2 separate regions of the Homo sapiens genome follow, and region 2 is linked to region 1. The links come from fine-mapping of genetic effects on gene expression. A gene starts in region 1. The other region holds a variant in brackets. All regions are shown on one strand. Distances are between the middles of the regions.

Region 1 (2,925 bases):
CACACACACACACACACACACGGAGAGAGAGAGACAGGAGAATATTTATTATAAGGGATTGACTCATGTCATTATGAAGGTAAGAAGCCCCATAATTTTTCCTCTGTAATCTTGAGGCCCAAGAAAGCTGGTGGTGTAATTCCATCCCAAATCCAAAGGCCTGAAAACCAGGAAGGCACTGGTATAAGCCCTGGTCTGAGTTCAAAGACCCAAGAACCATGAACATCAAAGTCCAAGGGCAGGAGAAAATGGATGTCTCAGCTCAAGCAGAGAAAGAAACTTCCCCTCTTTTGTTCTATTCAGTCCTTCTGAATATGGGTGCCCACCTGTACTGGTGAAGGCAGATGATCTTAACACAGTCTACTCATTCAAGTGCTAATCTCTTCCAGAAACACCCTCACATACGTGTCCAGAATAAAATTTTACTAGTTTTCTGGGGATCCCTTAGCTCAGTCAAGTTGGCATATAAAATTAATAATTACAGATCTACCTCTTATCAATTTGGCTTATGTATCTCCTTAAATCATACCTAATCTCCAGATAAAGATAACAATAACATCGTGATTTCACCTAACATGATACAACAATTTTCATACTACCAAATACACAGTAATGTCTTCCTCAGAAAAGGAGATGAAGTCCTTGAGTGACATTTTTCTCCTGATGTTCCATAACTTAAATACTATGAAGTAAAATGAACAATACTTAAATCCTTATACAAGAGTCAGTATAGCTTATGTTACCTGATATGGAAAATCAAAAGAGGATAAATAACAAAGATAGTGTTTAACATATGTATATACACATACATACAAGCATATTCATAACAAAATTAGGAGATAATACTCATGACAATTATAGTCCTCATTTCTGGAACTGGCCACATAGTTGTAGCTAGTATTTATAACTACCTTCTACTCCTATCCTGTACAACCCTTGCCTTCAGCAACTCCCTTAGCTGGTCCTGTTTCCTTACCTGGTAGAAGGACTCAAATCTTCATTCCTTGAAGATTCTGCCCCATGAGTTGTTCCGCCTGAACTGAGTTATTGTAGTTTTCCACTGGCCTTAATCGCAATGTGTGGGAACACTAAGGGTGTCCTAAGGGAACTTCTGTATTCCAGATGTACTCTCCCTCACCCCCATGGTGGAGCAATTTCCCTCTTGTTAGTCAGATCAATCACTGTAGCCCACACCATAACTTCCTTATTTGCCTGTTGAATCAGCAGCATGGAGAGCACAAGGTGGCTGGGTGGCAGTCTTAACTCCCAGGTCAAGGAAATTATTCTTGTGTCTCCTGGTGAAGCATTCCATCCTCTGGAACTAAGACGTCTAGGCCAGCAGAGCATAATGTCATGGAAACAGGAAGTAAACATTTTGCTTGTGAGTCACTAGGCGCAGTAGTGAATGATGCCACTCCCACTTCCATTCTTTGATTCCTGGACCCATGAATTCTGGCTACCACATAAATAGCATCATATATTTGACCCTGATTCAGACCATATACAGCCTTCTGGAGAACCATTCCTGCAAGGTATTGCCACCTAGGTGGCACTGTAACTGAGTCTTCAAAAGACAATTCCATCAATGTATCAGGCCAGAAGCTTCAGAATGGTGGAAAACATAGTAAGACCAATGATTTTCATGTTCCTGGCCCTATTGCTGCACTTCCCTTGCTGTGAAGTGAGTTCCTTCATCAAAAGCAATGTGATCTGGAAGACTATGAAAATGGACAAGCCAGTGAGTTAAGTTCACAGATGGTAGTTGTGGTGTGCAAGAAAGGCAAATCCATATTCAGAGCATCTATTCCAGGAAGGGCAAAATACTGCCCCTTTCATGACAGATGTTTTCTAAGGTAATCAATCAGCCTGCTACCAGGTGTTGGCTAATCACCCCAGGGAATGGTGTCATATTAGGAGCCAGGTGTTGGTCTCTGCCATTGGGAGATTAGACACTCAGTTTTCTACAGTCCGGTTAGCCTTGTTGAGTGGAAGTCCATGTTTCTGAGCCCATGCGTAACTTCCATCCTTGCTACCATGGCCTCTTTGTTCCTGAGCCCAGTGGGAAATGACAAAGTTGGCTGGAGAAAGAGACTGATTTGTATTCATCCACACAATGGGTCATTCCATCCACTTTAATGTTAAAATCCTTCTCTGCCAAGCTCACCCTTTGGTGAGCATTCACATGAAATACAATATATCCATTATTTTTTGCTTATTCATAGAGGTGTGCCCACATCTCTCTTCCCCAAATTTTTTGTCACCAATTTTTCCATGTGTCCTTTCTAAGTTTCTGATCATCCAGAAAAAGAAGAACACTCGCTACAGACCATGAATTGGCAGGTAATCACCTCTCTAGCCATTTCTCTTTCTAAGAAAAGTGAATCATCAGGTGGAATGGTTGAAGTTCTGTCCACTGGGAGGATTTTCATTCACCACTGTCCTTCAGGGATATCCCTGAGAGGGGCTATAGGGGTGCAGTTGTCCCTTTTTGTGTTATGCCTGCATATTTTGCAGAATCCTCTGTAAACCAGGCTGAGTCTTCTCTTCCTCTGTCAACTGCTCATAGGGAATTTTTTAATGACTTCATAGCTGCAGGCTGGCAGAGAGCAGGAAGTGTAGCAGGAGTGGGGATCATGGGCATTTGGGCCACTTCTTAATGTCACTTACCTGTGCCTTCAGGACCTGCTTAGCCCCAGTCACATCCATTTGATGGACGAGTGTTGCTATGTACTCTCAACTTTATGGCTTTGTGGGTCAGGTAGCCACCAATTCATGATGAGCAGCTCAGGACATATGATAACATGGTGGTTCATGGTCAGCCATTCAGTCTCTATAAAGGCTCAATAGCTGGCCAAGAGCTGACTCTCAGAGGGAGAGTAGTTATCTGTGAATGACAGCATAACCTTACTCCAAAATCCTCAAGTC
Region 2 (2,925 bases), 42 kb after region 1:
ACCCCACCTATATTCCACCCCTAACTATAGTGAACTTTTATAAATAACCTTGAGATATAAAACTTTGCCCCTGGAAGAAAGGGAACATCTGTGTTACAAACACAAACATGGACAATTTCTTCAAGAAATAAAGGGAAATTAGAATTTTTTTAAAAACCTGCAATTCCAAGTTACATTTTTAAGAATTGCTATGCACTTTGACAAGTGCAGGACAGTTCCTCATCAACTATGCTGTGATCGTACAGTTTGCTGAAATATTTTCATTTCTAGCATATTATTATATTAAGAAAAGAAAGTGCTTTGTGAAATTGTTGAGACCAAGAAAAGCAGCCCTAGAGTGGCCTGGAGGGAAAACATTGGGTCTCTTTATGATATTACTCAAAGGCCTTTTAGATCCTGGAGAGGTGACAAAGTCACCCAGGAGAGTGAAGGATAACACAGTAAAAAGTCTTATGTAAAACTGAGACAGGGCTTTTCCTCTGGAAGAATCTTCAACTTCTGGTGCTAAGTCATCTTCCTATAGCTTCCCTGAAGCAGGAATTAGCATTGTAAACTCTTTCTAGACTGTAGGGTGAGTAAACTAGCCTCACCCAGTGAAGCTCTTGCAGAGACAAGAGCAGATGGCAGACATTCAAGCAGCAAGCCCTGGCTCCATCCACCTGCACCTTATGTGGCAGCAACTCTGGTCAGGGAGCACTCAAGAGGCTGTGGAAAGATGCAAGAGAAATAGGACATGTCCAGTGAATCATCCTGGCACACATATGAATGGTTTTTTAACTGTGAATCTGCTTATTTCCACACAAATAGCATAGGAACTGAGGGAATCAAATGAGAGCCACTGTCGCTCTGACAAAAAGAAAGAGAAAGGAAGAGAGACAGAGGAAGTAAGCGTTTGTTTCATATTTACTTCTTGAATATTCCCTAGTGCAAAGCACATGTATGTGATCCTGCTCTATGCTCATGAAATCCATGCATCATCTCTTATATTAATTTTACAGATGTGGAAACTCAAATAAAGAGAGGTGAAAGAGTCCCCAGGACAACACAAAAAGGTGACAGAGCCACTGAATTTAAATCCATACCCTCTAATTCAAGGTTAGTTCTCTTCTCTATAACTGCTGTTTCCAATAGTTTCATGGAAACCACAAAATATTTTCTAATTTACCCTAAATATTTTAAATATTTTCATGACATTCTTTACTCCAATGTATAGTTACCCTCTTTCCTGAATTCTTAAACTCTCATCACATTTACTTAAGTAGCCTGATATTTAATTTTTTTTTTTCAGTGAGATGGTAAGTCTCCAGGGTGAGAGCTGTGTTCAAGGTGCCCTTTTTTCATTCAAAATATCATGTGCACTTATTGATTCATAATAGGCATTCAATAAAAATTTGCTGAATCAAAAAGAAAAAGAAATCCAGATATTCTGTTTTATTTCCATTGTCCTCCTCCTTCTCATTTTGAGCTGTCTTCATGTTTCAGGCACTACGCTTAGCACAATTCATACCTTATCTCATTTAAACACAATTATTATCTGCTTTTTTTACTTAAGAAAACTGAGACACAAAGACATGGGGCTTATTTTCACAAGGCCACAGAGCTTGAGCGTTCATCAGCCTGATCCCAGAGCCCAACCTCTTAACCATTACAGGATTTTGTCTCAAGA[C/G]CACCCATCAATGCGGTAATGGGATCTAAAGTTGAACCCAAGAGCTCTGGCTTTTTGGCTGCCAACCTCATCATTAACCCCTCCACCAGGGGAAATCAACCAGCCAAAAAGCTGTGCATTCTCTCCCCAGTATTTCCTTCCACCTAAGCCAGCATGGTATTCCCCAGAGTCACTTCCCACCCTGGCACACAAACCACAAGTAAAAAAACTGGAGCATCAAACACCAACATTAGCAGGATAAATACTCCATCTAATCATCCTACTAAATCATCAGACTGAGTCCCCAGAATTCTAATGCTCTTTCACTCCATTCCCTCTGCCTCTCTTGAGGCTTTAATTTGAGCCTTTCCCTCCCAACTAAAACCAGATATGTAAAGATGGTATTATATTTCTTCACAGCTAATAGCCAGACTATGAAATCATCCAGCAAGCAACTCCCAAGCCATGTGAATCAGTCGTAACACATTTCCTTCATTTTTATAACCCTGGAGATGGAAGAAGGGCCAGGAGGTAGATGAAGGGGAGGGTTATTGCCAGGTATTGTTAACTTTGTCCCTGGGTAATTGAAGTAAGAGCAGTCCAGGTCAGATTAGAAGCAAGATCTTGGAAAAGCTTGGATATAACAGGGACCTGGTAGACCCATATTGGATTGATTATGAAGCAGGAAGTGAAATCTGACATGCCTGACATTTAACACCCTAACCACATCCTGTCTCCTAGATGATGAGAATAAAGATATTGTATATTCAGTGGCACTGACATTTTTATGCCTCTTAACGAAAAGGGAAACAACTTTCTGGGACTGGTTGAAAGGATAAGGAAGCAGAGAACACCTTCACGGCCTTTAAGGAAGATAGGGGATTTGAGTAGGAAGTTGTATAAGGAAGGAAACATCAAGTCCTATATTTTGGGTGAATAAAGCAAACTAAGTTGCATCAGCCTGGGCAAAGAATGTTTTGAGTGAGGAAAATAAATGAAATAGCAATTGAAAACAGAAAAATCCAGTAATGATTTCTTTATTACCTGAAATACTTGAGATTTTTCAATGTTTTCACTCTCAACGTTTTCAACAATTTTCAGAACTAAAGGTATTTTAAAACTTGTATTAACTGTTGAAGGCTACTTGAGGATGCATAGGATTGAAGCACTGGTAGGTGTCTAGCTTAATAGCACATCTCAATAGCACATCTTGTATTTATATAATACAGCTTGAGGATTTCAACAGGTCTCTCAAAATGACCCCCTTCAGCAGCCCAGTC

The links. PIP is the estimated chance that this variant, and not a neighbour inherited with it, causes the effect. A credible set is the group of variants that fine-mapping cannot tell apart.
Region 2: its variant is the best candidate, but not a certain one, in a credible set for the expression of LINC02725 in blood mononuclear cells (TOPMed, PIP 0.75).

The regions. Positions count from the first base shown.
Region 1 is chr11:128,094,151-128,097,075 of GRCh38, reverse strand. It overlaps LINC02725 (long intergenic non-protein coding RNA 2725), which reads right to left and starts at 1,317. Exons shown (of 6, transcript NR_183639.1): 1 at 977-1,317.
Region 2 is chr11:128,052,466-128,055,390 of GRCh38, reverse strand. LOC107984374 (a long non-coding RNA gene) reads left to right here and starts at 656. Exons shown (of 2, transcript XR_001748082.2): 1 at 656-1,095. The variant C/G (reference allele first, on the strand shown) is at 1,667.